Regions from separate parts of the Homo sapiens genome. Here region 1 is linked to region 2. The links come from fine-mapping of genetic effects on gene expression. A gene starts in region 2. The other region holds a variant in brackets. All regions are shown on one strand. Distances are between the middles of the regions.

Evidence for each region. PIP is the estimated chance that this variant, and not a neighbour inherited with it, causes the effect.
Region 1: its variant is fine-mapped to the expression of PTGDR in whole blood (TOPMed, PIP above 0.99).

Annotation. Positions count from the first base shown.
Region 1 is chr14:52,189,290-52,197,630 of GRCh38, forward strand. No RefSeq gene overlaps it. Among named protein-coding and RNA genes, the nearest start is that of LINC02319, 68 kb to the left of the region's middle. The variant T/G (reference allele first, on the strand shown) is at 4,286.
Region 2 is chr14:52,262,540-52,270,849 of GRCh38, forward strand. It overlaps PTGDR (prostaglandin D2 receptor), which reads left to right and starts at 5,159. Exons shown (of 2, transcript NM_000953.3): 1 at 5,159-6,121. The coding sequence starts at 5,276.

The DNA.
Region 1 (8,341 bases), 73 kb before region 2:
CTGGATTTTGTAACCACATTAAAAATGTTATTTATCAGGAAGTTGAGGCAACTTCTAAATAAGAATAATAATTTTTTACAGAGAACTTGTGTTTTCAAAGTTGTTAACATTGATTTAATATCCAGTTTCAGTTCCTGTATCAAATGTCAGAGTAAAATAAATCTTTAATGTCATGAGTAATCTCTAGACTGATGAAATAGCAAATCGAATGTTGAGTCAATAAGCAGGAAACTTTGGCTTTGATATTACACTTTTACTCATTTGGAAGTAAAAAAGATACTTTAAAATGAAAAGTAGTCACACACATTAAGGGAAAGCATGAGATATAATGCAGACTGTCGAAGATAAGACGTGCACATGCGTATTTTTATTACATGTGTTTAGCATTTTGGTTGCAACTACCTAAAGTTGTTATTTCTTTGAGTATTAAGAAGGCTTTGCACCTCACACTGTGCATGCTCACATACCAAACATTTGTGCAAAATAAGGCTTCACTTTCCACTTGAAAACTCTAGCAGGGTCAAGATGTTAAAGAGTTCCAACCTAGATCTTGTTATCCAGGAAAAAGGGAAGAAATGCAAGCAGCTTACAAAGATAATATTTATTGGAGAATATGCCTCATTGTTAATTAATATGAGTTTCTATAAAACATAAACTCTAATAATTTAGTGAGTTAATATCATATGCTGGACACTGTGCTGTCTGTTTAGATTTTCTAGTTTCCTACTTCTTATTTTAGCAATGGCTTATTTAGTACCACTAATTAATCTATATTTTATAAGATCTCACTCCACTTATTCTGTGATATCTCCTGGTCTCTGATTTCTTTCCAAATGACTGAATGTATACAGGCATACTTTGTTTTATTGTGTTTCACAGATACTGGATTTTTTACAAATTGAAGGTTCGTGGCAATTATGCACCAAGCAAGTCTATCAGGGCCATTTTTTCCAACAGCATGTGCTCACTTTGTAAGTCTGTGTCACTTATTGGTAATTCTCACAACATTTCAAACTTTTTCATTTTTATTATCTCTGTTATGGTGATCTATGATCAGTTATCTTTGATTTACTATTGTAGATGTGTTGGGGCTCATTAACTGCACCTGAACTTAATCGATAAATGTGTGTGATCTGACTTCCCCACTGACTAACCATTCTATCTCTCTCTCTCTCCTCCAGCCTCCCTAGTCCCTGAGACACAAGAATATTGCAGTTAGGCCAATTAATAACCCAACAACGGCCTCTGAGTATTCACGTGAAAGGGAGAGTTGCACCCTGATTAGTCAGCAGCCATCAACATGGAGGCAAAACCCTCCACCAGCAAGAAGATTATGACTCACTGAAGGCTCAGGTGATTGTTAGTGTTTTTTAGCAATAAAATATTTTAAATTAAGGTATGTCCATTGGTTTAAGATATAATACTATTGCACACTTAATGGACTACAGTATAGTGTCAACATAACTTTTACATGCACTAAGAAAGCAGAAATTTCATGTGACTCATTTTATTGCAATATTTGCTTTATTGTGGTGGTCTAGAACTGAACCCATAATATCTCAGATATTCCTGTACTTTAGTGAGCACTTTATCTTTTTTGTTTAGCGTAATCAAGTATAAAGCAAACACTTTATCTTAACCATTAATTTCATCCAGCAGCATCTAAGACCAAGACACTGGCCAAATCATGTTCTTTTTTTCCATTTAAAAATGCAAAATGGGCTGGGAGCGGTGGCTCACACCTGTAATCCCAGCACTTTGGGAGGAGGGGGGAGCAGATCACAAGGTCAGGAGTTCGAGACCAGCCTGGCCAATATGGTGAAACCTTGTCTCTACTAAAAATACAAAAATCAGCTGGGCGTGGTGGCACATGCCTATAGTCTCAGCTACTTGGGAGGCTGAGGCAGGAGAATTGCTTGAACCCAGGAGGCGGAGGTTGCAGTGAGCCGAGATCGTGCCGCTGCACTCCAGCCTGGGTGGCAGAGCAGGACTCCGTCTCAAAAAAAAAAAAAGAAACAAAAGGAAAATGAAGTCATAATTTTTATCCCATCTCTGTCCACTGAAAAGGCCTAGAGGCAACAATCAACCCATTGAAATAAGAACAATTAGCACTGTCAATATCATTCCTCACTAAAAGGAGTCAGAACTCTTTGGGTAAACGTCAGATTCTGAGTCTGAGGTAGAAAGGCACAAGAAGCTGGAACATCTTATCACGTTGGAAAGAAAGAAAACAATCAAAGAATATTGAAGACAAATTGAAAAGTGTCCTACTGATTAAAAATGGCCCAATTTGAGCATCAAAAATAATTTGAGGTAGATTTGAAAAGCATCATGTTGGAATCCATAAGTCTATGATGATCTATCTATATATATGTATGTATATGTTTGTGTGTATACATATATATACACACATACACACACACATATATATACACACATAGATACATTAAAATTGATAGTAGTTGCGCATGGTGGTGCACGCCTGTAATCCCAGCTACTTGGGAGGCTGAGGCAAGAGAATCGCTTGAACCAGGGAGGCAGAGGTTGCAGTGAGCTGAGATCACACCACTGCACTCCAGCCTGGGTGACAGAGCGAGACTCCAACTCAAAAAAAAAAAAATTTGATGGTCACCTTCGGAAATTGTTAGAACACTAACTCATTAATATGAAGTGATAAATAAAAGGATAGAAGCAAGCGTTTATTCTGTCTTTCCTTTATGACTAAATTCCAGTAATACATGCAGAAAGAATTAATTAAAAATGATTAAAATATTACCCATTAATAACTCCTAATTAAAACATTACCCATTTATAATACCTAATGAAATAATGAATATTACCACTTAGTAGGTGAAAGGTTGGTTTGGAACACTATGATGAATAAATTAGCCTAACAACTCTCAGATCTACGGATCAATCTTAACATCTCAAAGACAAAGACAATGCATTATGTTCTTCCTACTGCCATGCAACAGGCACTACATGGCACCATCTATGAACCTAAATCACAAATCCAGAATTCGGATGAGTTTACAGGACAAACGACTTGCAGGGGGCACTGTTACAGATTAAAAGAAATTTTAGGAACTCTAACAACAAAATGCACTGTGTGAACCTTGTTTGGATCCTGATTCAAACCAACCAATTATAAAAAGACATTAATGAGACAATTTGGAAATTTGAATGATGATATTAAGTCTAATAGATATTGAGGAAATTAAGAATATGTTTTCATATATTTAGTTTTAGGAAAATCACATTGTGGTTATATTAAACAAAAGAGATCCTTGCCTCCACTGAGACATATACTGGCGTCTTAATGAAAGAAATGATATATCCGGGTTTTACTTAAAATAATCTAGTGGGGTGTGAGAAGTGTAAAGTCAGTTGTTGCATAATATGGGGGGTTGTTATACTGCTTTCTCTATTTTTTGTGTAAGTTTGAACGTTTCCATAAGAAAAAGTTTCAAAGGTGACAAAATATCACTCCATTCATTTGTTCTTTTGAAAAACACTAGGGTTTGCACTAGTGTGCTGGGCACCCCAACATATTACATAACTCACATTTATTTTTGGTGAAGGAAAAATATCATTAAATACTGTGATTAAAAATAGAGATAAAAAATAAAGCACCAGGACACAGACCAAGCAAATAGTTATGATTGGGGAATGGCTTACGTGGGTTGGAGAAAGTTTTGTCAGAGAGATGACATTTGCACTCCATCAGCTAACTCACTTGAGGCTGGCTTCAATGGGCAGGCGTTCTCTAAAACTACATCAGGAAAAAGCAACCTATCTCATAAGGACTTCACAAGCATTTGGTTTTCTCTTCTTGTTACAATATGTATAATTTGTTTTCTGGGAAAGGTGCACATAGATCTGCATGTGGTTAGCAAATTTAAAAAAAGTAAATGGTTAAAAGTTGCTAATCTCATTTGTTTTCCAAAAGAAAGGGGAAAATAATTCACTTCATTGTAAATATTAAGGGAATTTTGAGCCTATAAAGGGATTTTAGGTAAGGGTTTCAAAATTTAGAAGGTATTTTTTTCCAAATTAAGGGAAAAAAGATACAACTACAGTCATGCATAACTTAACAACATGGATACATTCTAAGAAATGCATCATTAGCAATTTTCTTCATTGTGCAAACATCATAGGGTATACTTACACAAGTCTGGATGGTATATCTTGCTACACCCTAGGTTATACAATATAGCCTGATGACAAAAAAAGGAAACTGAGGCAAAATTAATATTGAGAGTTTATTTGGGCCAAGGTTGAGGAC[T/G]GCAGCCCCAGAAACTCTGGGAAGTGCTCATTTCAGCCCTCCTTACAAGCTGGTTTTTAAAAGGCAAAAGGGCACAAGGAGTGAGCTGATAGAAAACTGTTTGAATAGGAATTCTCACTGGTTTACAGAAATAACATCGATTAGTAACTTGCTACACATTGTTGAACTACAGAGTATGAGTTTCAGCTTCTGACATGTGGCATTTCATGGCTACATGGCATCAGATAGTCTAGCACCCACATAGCGAAGTCTTCAAGAGGTAATTATTTAGCTCAAAGGGTGAGTGAGATGAGACTGCTGTCACATTTTAATGTCTCTCTGGGCCTGATAATTTAAAAGGGGCTCATATTCCTCAGATAAAAATTTCTTTTCTCTCTCAATCTGATTGTTATTATTAGGCTACAAACTGTACAGCATGTGGCCATACTGAATACTGTAGCCAATGGTAACACAATGGTAAGTATTTGTATATATAAACATAAAGAAGGTACAGTAAAAATATGGTATTATTTTCTTACAGGATGACCACCATACATATGGTTCCTTGTTAACAGAAACATCATCAAGCAATGTGTGGCTATATTTCAAACCTAGATTGCTATCTATATTGACATTTATATATAGTAAATGCCATAAATGTCTTTGAAGGAAAAAATAGTATGCATTCCTTCTAAAATTAGTTTAGATATGGTGAGGCCTTTTCCTGAGAGTAATGGTTTTATTTTTCTTTGACTCCAGTGGTAAATGAACAGCATTGGCTATCTCTCCACAGGGCCACCAACTACAAAGGAACTGGAAGACCTCTGAAATTTGGGACTACGGCAGATTTCATAATTTGCCTTGCGCATTTGGGAACTGTTAGTAAATCTTCTTTCTCATCACTGACATCAGTATGTTTTTGCTCCAAATTTGTATTTAGTGAAGGCTGAACTCCTAATTGTCATTGCCCCATAGTAAAGCATAGTTTTGCCTGACTGACAGACTAATGAAGCTCAAGTTACTGGGAACGGAGGTTTTACGAGGTTGCCCTGAGATTGATCCCACTGAGCTGGGAGTCCAGAGGGTCCCATGAAGGCTACTCTGCTTCATGACCTCAGGAGAGTTGATGCAAAGAAGATAGAGCAGCTGAATTTGGTTCAAAGCCAACCTGGCAGTGGTAAGAGTATTAATATACAAGACAAGTGTTTACAGATGAAGATGTTGTGGAATAGGATGGGAGGAAGTAGGATTAACTAGTACAATTATTCATCAAGTCTAAATCATTATAGCATCTTTGAATCAGAAGACAATGGAGAGTTATTTAATTAGGACTCCCATTGAATCAAGAACTTCCTCTTCCAGATTCCTAAAAAGTGGTTATCTATTTGGAAGACCACCAAACAAATAGAGCACAAGAAATAAATGATGAATTCTCCTCATTTCCCTTAAGCTTTTATAAAAAATATATTTTGTAACAAACATACTGTACATATCCTGAGTGTGGCTGAAGACAGGTATGAGCCACTGCACCTGGCTCAAAAGCAGGAACTTTTACTCATTACTAATGGGAATGCCAAATTGTATAGCAACTTTGGAAGAATGTTTGGAAGTTTCTTACCAAACTAAACATACTCTTTGATATGGTTTGGCTGTGTCCCCACCCAAATCTCATCTTGAATTGTAGTTTCCATAATCCCCACATGTTGTGAGAGGGACCCAGTGAGAGGTAACTGAATCATGGTGGTGGTTACCCCCATGTTTTTCTCATGATAGTGAGCGAGTTCTCATGAGATCTGATGGTTTTATAAGCAGCTTTTCCCCTTTGCACAACACTTCTCCTTCCTGCTACCATGTGAAGAAGAACATTTTGCCTCTCCTTTCACCATGATTCTAAGTCTCCTGAGGCTTCCTAGCCCTGTGGAACTTGGAGTCAATTAAACCTCTTTCCTTTATAACTTACCTAGTCTTAGGCAGTTCTTAGGCAATTTAGTAATACACTAAATTGGTACCGAGGGAGTGAGGCACTGCTAAAAGGATAACCAAAAAATTCCAAAGTGACTTTGGAATGGGGTCACAGGCAGAGACTGAAACAATTTGGAGGGTTCAGAAGACAACAAGAAAATGTGAGAAAGTTTGGAACTTCCTAGAGACTTAGAGATCTCAGAAGACAGGAACATGTGGGAAAGTTTGGACCTTCCTAGAGACTTGTTGAATGGTTTTGACCAAAATGCTGATAGCGATATTGACAATTAAGTCCAGCCTGAGGTAGTAGCAGATGGAGATGAGGAACTTCTTGGTAACTGGAGCAAAGGTTACATTTGCTTTGCTTTAAGAAAGAGACTGGCGGCATTTTGCCCCTGTCCTAGAGATCTGTGAAATTTTGAACTTGAGAGAGATGATTTAGGGTATATAGTAGAAAAAATTTCTAAGCAGCAAAGCATTCAAGAGGAAGCAGAACATACAAGTTTGAAAATTTGCAGCCTGATGAGGTGATGAAAAAGAAAAGCCCATTTTCTGGGGAAAAATTCAAGCCCACTGTAGAAATTTGCATAAGTAACAAGGAGCCAAATGTTAATCACCAAGACAATGGGGCAAATGTCTCTGGGGCATGTCAGAGAACTTCACCCCAGCCCCTCCCGTCACAGATGTGGATCCCTAGGAGGGAAAAATGGTTTCATGGGCCCCCATGCTCTGTGCAGCCTCAGGACATGGTGCCCTGCATCCCAGCTGCTTTAGTTCCAGCTGTGGCTAAAAGGGGCCAAGGTACAGCTCAAGCCATTGCTTCAGAGGGTGCAAGCTCAAGCCTTGGCTGCTTGCATGTGGTGCTGGGCCTCTGAGTGCACAGAAGTCAAGAACTGAGGTTGGGGAACCTCTGCCTAGATTTCAGAAAATGTATGGAAACACCTGGATGTCCAGGCAGAAGTTTTCTGCAGGGGAGGAGCCCTCATGGAGAACCTCTGCTAGGGCAAAGGGAAATATGGGTTTGGCGCCCCCACACAGAGTCCCCACTGGGGCACTGCATAGTGGAGCTGTGAGAAGAGGGCCACTGTCCTTCAGACCCCAGAATGGTAGATCAACTGACAGCTTGCACTATGTACCTGGAAAAGCCACAGACACTCAACACCAGCCATGAAAGCAGCCAGGAGGAGGGCTGTACCCTGCAAAGCCACAGGGTGGAGGTATCCAAGGCCATAGGAGCCCACCTCTTGCTTCAGTGTGACCTGGATGTGAGTCATGGAGTCAAAGGAGATCATTTTGGAACTTGAAGGTTTAATGACTGCCCTATTGGGTTTTGGACTTGCAGGGGCCTGTAGCTCCTTTGCTTTGACCAATTTCTCCCATTTGGAATGGGTATATTTACCCAATTCCCATACTCCCATTTTGTCTAGGAAGTAACTAACTTGCTTTCGATTTTACAGGCTCCTCCTAGGTGAAAGAGACTTGCCTTGTCTCAGATGAGACTTTGGACTTGGACTTTTGGGTTAATGCTGGAATGAGCTAAGACTTTGGGGGATTTTGGAAAAGCATGATTGTGTTTTGAAAAGTGAGGACATGAGATTTGGGAGGGGTCAGAGTAGAATGATATGGTTTGTCTGTGTCCCCAACCAAAACTCATCTTGAATTTTACTTCCCATAACCCCTACATGTCATGGGAGGGACCCAATAGGAGGTAACTGAATCATGGGGGTGACTACCCCCATGCTGTTCTCATGATAGTGAGTTCTCATGAGATCCATGGTTTTATAAGGGGCTTTTCCCCTTTGCTTAGCACTTCTCCTTCCTGCCACCATGTGAAGAAGGATGTATTTGCTTCCCCTTCTGCCATGATTCTAAGTTTTCTGAGGCCTCCCCAGCCATGCAGAACTATGAGTCAATTAAACCTCTTTCCTTTATAAATTACCCAGTCTCAGGCAGTTCTTTATAGCAGCATGAGAACAGCCTAATATACTCCTATACTGTTAGCCAGTAATTGTGCTCCTTGGTATTTACCCAAAGGAGTTGAAAACATTTGTACACAGAAAAACCTACACATCAATGTTTATTGCATCTTTATTCACAATTGGCAAAACTTGGAAA
Region 2 (8,310 bases):
CTGAAAGGCTTATTCCCCGCGCTGTGGCACAGTCCTCAGCCATCAGCCCCCTCCATGTATTGCCTTGGCTGAGAGAGCTGCAGCACCCAAGGCTCTATGCCCTTCCCCAGGGCAACCTGCCCCCAGTCACTGGCCCATTCAGGGATACAAAAGCCTAGTATCCTTACCTTCAAGTGAGACAACTTTGAGGGGCCTTGTCAGCTTCTGAGTTTCCAGTCAGGTTAGTTAAGGTCTGTCATTGGAACTATCACAACCCAATTTCTCTACTCAATCCTGTTTCTGTTCCTTCTTTTTCACAGGTGTCAATCTCAAAAGCACTTCCTAATAAATACGCTACATATCCTATCCTCATCTCCATCTCAGAGTCTGCTTTTCTCAGGCAACCAAACCAGCCATAGCTGCCAACAACTTCCCTTGGAAGCTTATGCAAGCTGCTAGAAAAGCTCAGTAATCAGTGAACCCTCACAACCTGTCATCAGGTTACAAATGGATTATACCACCATTTATTTACTCTCAGGTCATCACCCAAAGACGTTTTCAAAAAATTCATGCTGATCTTTTGAAAGCGTATTTTCTCAAATTCCTACACATACAGAGATCCTGATCCTGATTTACACATGGACAGAAGCCAAAGATCAAAATGGAAATTCTTGCTAGGCAAAAGGTTGGGGAAGCCTGAAAAGCAGGAATAAGAATCAAACAAACATGAAGATTTTATTAAACTACCTGCAAATAGCAAACAGATGCCAAAATATTTGGGCAGACCACCACAAGACATTGTGTGACCCCAAAAACACAGGGCACTGACACATGGTCTGTCCCTGGTGGTAGTTCTGCCTCTTGACTTCTGAGCAGATAGAGGAAGTGGCAGGATCTCTCCTTTCTCTCTCACTCTCTGGTCTTCTCTGCAATTCTCTTTCTCCAAGGCAGAGGCTTGGGGAATCCAAAAGACCTGGATGCCAATTCTAGACTCATCACATACCAGTTGTGTGAACTTAAACAAGTTATTAACCTCTCTGAGTCTCATTTTCCTTATCCAAGAAAAGAGAGATAAAGAAAACTTCTGCAGTGCAGTTGGCAGGAATAAAAACATTAATGAACATCACTTACGGAGCCACGCAGAGCATGCCACAGCACAGTGCTTAACATTCTCACCTGAGCTGCACACAGGAATTAACTGGGGAGCTTCAAAAAAGATACTGAAGCCTGGAGGGCAACCCCAAAGAGTCTGATATCATCAATTTGGGGTGCTGAAGCATCACAAAGGTTTAAAGCTCTCCAGGTGATTCCAAAGTGCAGCCAAGATTGCTAACTATTGTTCTATGCAGATTATTTCATTTAAGCCAGATACTACCCTAAGAGTTCAGTCCAATTATCCCCCTTCACCCTCCTTCCCTCCTTTCTACAGACAAGCGGATTGAGGTTTAGAAAGGTTAGAAGATTATGCAAGGGTACACAGCTAGCAAGGGGCAAAGCTGAGATTTAAGTTCACACAGTATGACTCCCAGGACCTAACACATCATGGCCACACTTCTATGCTACCACTCCAGGTCCTGAATGTGAACGAACATCTAGCATGGTCTCTAGCATGCAGAACATGCTCCAAATTTGAGAGCTAAGTTTGTTTATCATTTGTTAGCATCCCTCCTCTCCATTCCTTGCTCTTCACAAGCCCCAGCCCAAAATATCACTTGGAGTTCAGTAGAAGTGAGCAATGGATAAGATTTAGAAGCATAGTTAGAATGGATCCAGAAAAAAATAAATGTTCCTTTTTCCTTCTTTTCCCCTTCCTAGATCCCCACCATAAGCATACATTTCTTGTATTAGTCTGTTCTCATGCTGCTAATAAAGACATACCTGAGACTGGGTAATTTATAAAGGAAAGAGGTCCAACTGACTCACAGTTCCACATGGCTGGGGAGGCCTCACAATAATGGCAGAAGGTGGATGAGGAGCAGTCACGTCTTACATGGCAGCAGGCAAGAGAGAACTTGTGTAGGGGAACTCTCCTTTATAAAACCATCAGATGTTGTGAGACTTATTCACTATCACAGAACAGCATGGGAAAGACCTGCCCCCATGATTAATTACATTTCATCAGTTCCCTCCCATGACCACATGGGAATTATAGGAGCTACATTCAAGATGAGACTTGGGTGGGGACAGAACCAAACCATATCACTTGTTTTACATTTAAAGTCTTTTAAAATAATTATTACATATACAACATTGAAAATATCAGAAACCAAGGAGATATTTTTCTGCCATCCCTTCTCAAGTCTAAGTGAATGTTTTCATTTGCCTATGTCAGCTTCTGAGCCTTGTCCATGAGAATCTATGATTTTTATGTTTATATTGCCATAATATAATTATATATTTAAAATAGTCATCCACATGATGTCATATATTTTCAGAAGATTTGTCCTATAACCCAATTAAGCAGCCTGGTACAGCTCTGTAGATAATGGAGGTAATTTTACCACTAACTTAGCCTAAGATATTTTCATTAAAGGTTTCCCTTTTAAGGAAAAAATGTACTTAGCCTGGTTACTCTGAAAGCTGATATAAAAATGTATAAGCCTGTAGAGGTCACACGACATGATGTTTGCCTTTCCTTATCTGTTGTATGCCCCTCAGTGCCCACATGCTTCATCCCCTCACCCCCATGCTTGGCACAGAGTAGGAGCGCAAAAACTATTTGACGCATGAACAAATGATACTTTTCTTGGTTGTATGGTGAAATTACAAAATAGAATTTCTCGGGAACTGGGACAGAAGACTCCAAAGTTAGGCCTGAGAACAGGGTAGGGTGGACACCAGCAAAGCAATCAGGAAAGGCAACCGGAAACCCCATCGTAAAGGCCAGCTACAGTGGCTGAGAGGAAACGTGTGGTTTCCTGAATTGCACTTGTTCAAAACCTTCAACCTTAAAGCATGATGTATGTAAACCTTATCAAGGACCCACAGCTGGCCCAACAGTCACACTTTGGGGTTGTTTTCTTTAAAAGGTATTTGTAATCTTAGGGTTCCTAGGATAAATACGGAGTTGTAAGCCACTGTAGCATGAAAATAAAGCTGCAAAGAATTGAAGTAGGTATGCTTCAGAAGAACAACCCATGCAATATTTTTAGAGGAAGGATTCTTAAGCTAGTGTCCATTGGGTCTCCTCTGGGTACCATAGAAGGGCTTCAGGAAATGGTGAACAGCCTGAGATTGATGTAAAGTGTGTGTGTGTGTGTCTGCGTGTGTGTCTGTGTGTGTGTGCCTGTGTGTGTGTGTGTGTCTGTCTGTCTATGGAGGAGACCACAGCTTTCATCAAATTCTCATGTCTTTTGGTTATGGGGCCTGCTCTTCCTTTCACTTCATTAAGTCGAGTGGGGCTCTTCTAAACCCATTCTTATGTGCTAGGGGCTAGAGATGGGAATGAGAGAGAGTAGGTAGAAGACAAGGGAACTAACTCTATACAAGGCCTTCTATTGAGTCAATATAAGTGAAAGGCTTAGAGAGTGTCCAACCTGCATCAGGACCAATAAATATTAGCTCTTATTATTATTATTACACTATGCCAAAGCACTTCAAGTTTTCTCAACCTCACAACAACCCCACAAGTTCAGCATAAGTCTCATATTCCATTAGGTTGAACAACTAACCCAGGGTCACACAGCCAGTGGTGGAGTTCAGAACTATCTAATTCCAAGCTTAGATTCTTCTTTTCCACCCTGTGGCCTGAATTACTGGCCAGACTTTCAGTCTGGAGGCAGCCTCTCTGTCTACCCTTCAGGCTTTCACATCTAAATCCCAAGGGTCTTGCTCTTTCCCTGAGTCTGTCCATCAGAACTGGCATGAGGCCTAAAAATGAGCCGTTTCAAGCCCAGGCATCATCTACTCACTTACATAACAAAACCTTAGTCATCCCACTGAGATTCCACACTCAAAGCCAATTTCTCTCACAGGGCATCGAATGCTAGTTAAAGATATAAAATCACGCTTATCACAATTAACTCCCTTGCCTTTATGATGCAGCCAAGTCAAAGCCCAAACAGGAATAAATTTTTTCTAGTAGCCACAAATCAGAGGAGTGAGAAAGCTCTATGCCAAATCTACCATTTTCTGATTTCAAAATCCATGCTAAAAACTGCAGTTAAACATCAGCTACCAAAACACCCTTCTATCAAATAAGAATCATGGTGATTGCATGAATTGAGCACTTTCTATGTACTTGCTCTTTACGTGTTATTTCTATGCCTCAGAAGAGCCAAGCAGGCCAGATAGATGTTACTGCTTGAGAGGCTAAGCAAGTCCCATAAGGTCACACACACAGTGAGGAGCAGAACCTGGACTCAAACCCAGGCCTATCTGATGACAGCAACAGTGCTGCTAACCATGCCCTTCCCCCCAGCTCTCTACAGTCAATGTGATTCATGGCACCCAGGACCAACACCGGCTCTTGGCTTTCCCACAAACCACTTCCCTGAAATCTGGACAACTTCTTGGGAGGAGGAGTCATGGGAACAGGACAGATGAACTCCAAAATAGAAGATCGGGTGAGAGGTCCGGCTCTGCTACTTCTGTAGCTCTGTCACCACGGGCAGATCACTTAACTTTCCAAGGCCTCAGTTTCCTCGCCTATGCAATGGAGATGACCGTGAATGCCCCAAATTGCGCTGATCTAGTAGAGAAGAGGAGCTAAGGCTCAGGGGCTTTCCAGACGTGAGTTATCTTTACCTTTCCTTGACTAGCTAATTCAAGACAACTAGGTAGAAGCCCTTTCTCAGCCTCCCCTCTTCGCTCATCTTTCGAGTTCTTGGCCACCCCAGTTCAAACACCAGCACCATTGCCCTCCTCTCAGGTGGCTGCTGCTTAATTTCCCCTCCACTTTAGTAGTTCTTCTCTTGCCTCGCTAGAAGGACTGGTGTTGGGTGCTTGGAATTCTGGCTATTTTCCTCCTGCCGTTCCGACTCGGCACCAGAGTCTGTCTCTACTGAGAACGCAGCGCGTCAGGGCCGAGCTCTTCACTGGCCTGCTCCGCGCTCTTCAATGCCAGCGCCAGGCGCTCACCCTGCAGAGCGTCCCGCCTCTCAAAGAGGGGTGTGACCCGCGAGTTTAGATAGGAGGTTCCTGCCGTGGGGAACACCCCGCCGCCCTCGGAGCTTTTTCTGTGGCGCAGCTTCTCCGCCCGAGCCGCGCGCGGAGCTGCCGGGGGCTCCTTAGCACCCGGGCGCCGGGGCCCTCGCCCTTCCGCAGCCTTCACTCCAGCCCTCTGCTCCCGCACGCCATGAAGTCGCCGTTCTACCGCTGCCAGAACACCACCTCTGTGGAAAAAGGCAACTCGGCGGTGATGGGCGGGGTGCTCTTCAGCACCGGCCTCCTGGGCAACCTGCTGGCCCTGGGGCTGCTGGCGCGCTCGGGGCTGGGGTGGTGCTCGCGGCGTCCACTGCGCCCGCTGCCCTCGGTCTTCTACATGCTGGTGTGTGGCCTGACGGTCACCGACTTGCTGGGCAAGTGCCTCCTAAGCCCGGTGGTGCTGGCTGCCTACGCTCAGAACCGGAGTCTGCGGGTGCTTGCGCCCGCATTGGACAACTCGTTGTGCCAAGCCTTCGCCTTCTTCATGTCCTTCTTTGGGCTCTCCTCGACACTGCAACTCCTGGCCATGGCACTGGAGTGCTGGCTCTCCCTAGGGCACCCTTTCTTCTACCGACGGCACATCACCCTGCGCCTGGGCGCACTGGTGGCCCCGGTGGTGAGCGCCTTCTCCCTGGCTTTCTGCGCGCTACCTTTCATGGGCTTCGGGAAGTTCGTGCAGTACTGCCCCGGCACCTGGTGCTTTATCCAGATGGTCCACGAGGAGGGCTCGCTGTCGGTGCTGGGGTACTCTGTGCTCTACTCCAGCCTCATGGCGCTGCTGGTCCTCGCCACCGTGCTGTGCAACCTCGGCGCCATGCGCAACCTCTATGCGATGCACCGGCGGCTGCAGCGGCACCCGCGCTCCTGCACCAGGGACTGTGCCGAGCCGCGCGCGGACGGGAGGGAAGCGTCCCCTCAGCCCCTGGAGGAGCTGGATCACCTCCTGCTGCTGGCGCTGATGACCGTGCTCTTCACTATGTGTTCTCTGCCCGTAATTGTGAGTCCCCGGGCCCCGAGGCAGCAGGGCACTGAGACTGTCCGGCCGCGGATGCGGGGCGGGAAGGGTGGAGCGGATCGGGATGGACGCGGCGCCAGGCGAGCTGCGCCCTGGGCCAGGAAGGTTTGCTGCTGAGTTCCCCAAATTGGATTCCTTCCACAGCCCCGAGATATAACTCAGTTTGCGGAGCGAAATGAGGGAAAGTTAGAGAAAGGAAGGGAAAGGCTGAGCCCGGCGGTGTCTCCCTAGCCCAGCAAAACCCTCTCCATGTGGCAGAACTCCCTCCTCTCTGCTTCCTTCTGGGGAGATCTCGAGGTCATTTTTGCGCCTTAGGAGGAGCAGAACTTAGTTTCTCCTTGGCAACAGGAGTCTTCTACTTCCCGACGGCTGGGTGATGTTTTATTTTGTTAGACCTGCTCATGACTTCAGTGGTATCAGAAATGGGCGAATGGCGTCTGGGACGATCTTCTCCCCGGTGTTGGCATAGAAAGGGAAAAAGAGGTTTAAGCCAGCCAGAGTGATTTGCAGATGCATAGTTTTAATTTTGAAAAACGCGTGCGTAAACTTTGAGACGCCACGGCTGCTGTTTCTGGTGCTGCATCCGCCAGGGATTGTGGCGATGGAGGCCGAGGCTCTTTGTATGTTTTAGCTGCTGGTGTCGTTTTGACAACCTGACTTGACGGGTTTTGAGTGTATCTTGGCAAGTGAGGTGACATGAAAGCCATTATCTCCGGTTTCAATTTGGTAATGAGGATAGCGATGGAAATGAAATTATCTCCTCATTTTGAAGGCATTTGTTCCTGGAGTCCCCGCCAAGACACCTGGGAGTAGGTGAGGCTTGAGGAAACATTTTCAGTGCTGCTCCTCTCCTTTCTCCCAAGGTACCTGTTCAACAAAAACAATACTTACAGAAATTCCATTGCCAATCCCACGTTCTCGAAATCCTGAGACTTCTGTGAATAGGAAAGTTGTTAAATTTCTTCTCAGAATGTAGCCATTTTGGATATTACTTTCAATGGTGAATGAAAGGGAAATACAAAGCGATTTTCCTTTAAATGAAGGCCTTACTGCTTGCGGAAAAAGAAGTCTGGGGCATCAGCATGCAGGGGTGGGAACAGTATGCCCCCAAAATAAATAAACAAATACATAAATCTATATCTATCTAAATGTAGATATAGGCGCAGATGACATATAGCAGTGGTCTTCAGAATCACCAGCTCAGAATCACCAGCAAGGCTTCTAGAAAAAAAGATGGCTGGACCCCATTCCCCAGAGTTTCTAATTCAGACATTTTTAAAGAATTTTCATTCTTAACAAGTTCCCAGGTGATATGCAAGCTCAGATTCAGGGTTCACATTTGTAGAATCACACTCTAAAACAGGAGTTAGCAAACCACAGCTCACAGGCCAAATCTTTCCTGGCCACTGTTTTACATCTCCCTGGAGTTAAGAATAATTCTTACAAATGAATCTCTGCAATCAATTTGATGAGACCCAAGAGTTTTGAGCTTCAATTGAGCCAAATACTATTTCAAGAAAAATACTGTTCCAAGAAAACGTTTTATTCTTCTCCTTAGTAGATACATATTACAAAAAAATTGTACTCAGCCGGGAGCGGTGACTCACGCCTGTAATCACAGCACTTTGGGAGGCCGAGGCGGGCAGATCATGAGGTCAAGAGATCGAGACCATCCTGGCCAACATGGTGAAACCCCGTCTCTAAAAATACAAAAATTACCTGGGCGTGGTGGCATGCACTTGTAGTCCCAGCTTCTCAGGAGGCTGAGGCAGGAGAATCGCTTGAACCTGGGAGGCAGAGGTTGCAGTGAGCCAAGACTGTGTCACTGCACTCCAGCCTGGGCGACAGAGCAAGACTCCATCTAAAAAAAAAATTGTACTCAATTATTAATACATTTTGAATTCCATCAAAAAATTGTGGAAATGTGTTTTCTCCCATGTTATATTAGTACCTATCAAATATTTATGATTTTGTCTCTTGGCCATAAAACCTAAAATAGTTACTATCTGGTCCTTTATACAATCTTTAGGAGCTCCTATTGTAAAGTTGGGGCCTCACTTATCTATGCTGTGACAAAGTAGACAGTAGCCAAATGCATGGAAATTTTGACCTGAGTTTGAATGTTTTAGTCAGACCAATGCAGAAAGCAGCATCATACAGTGGAAAGAACA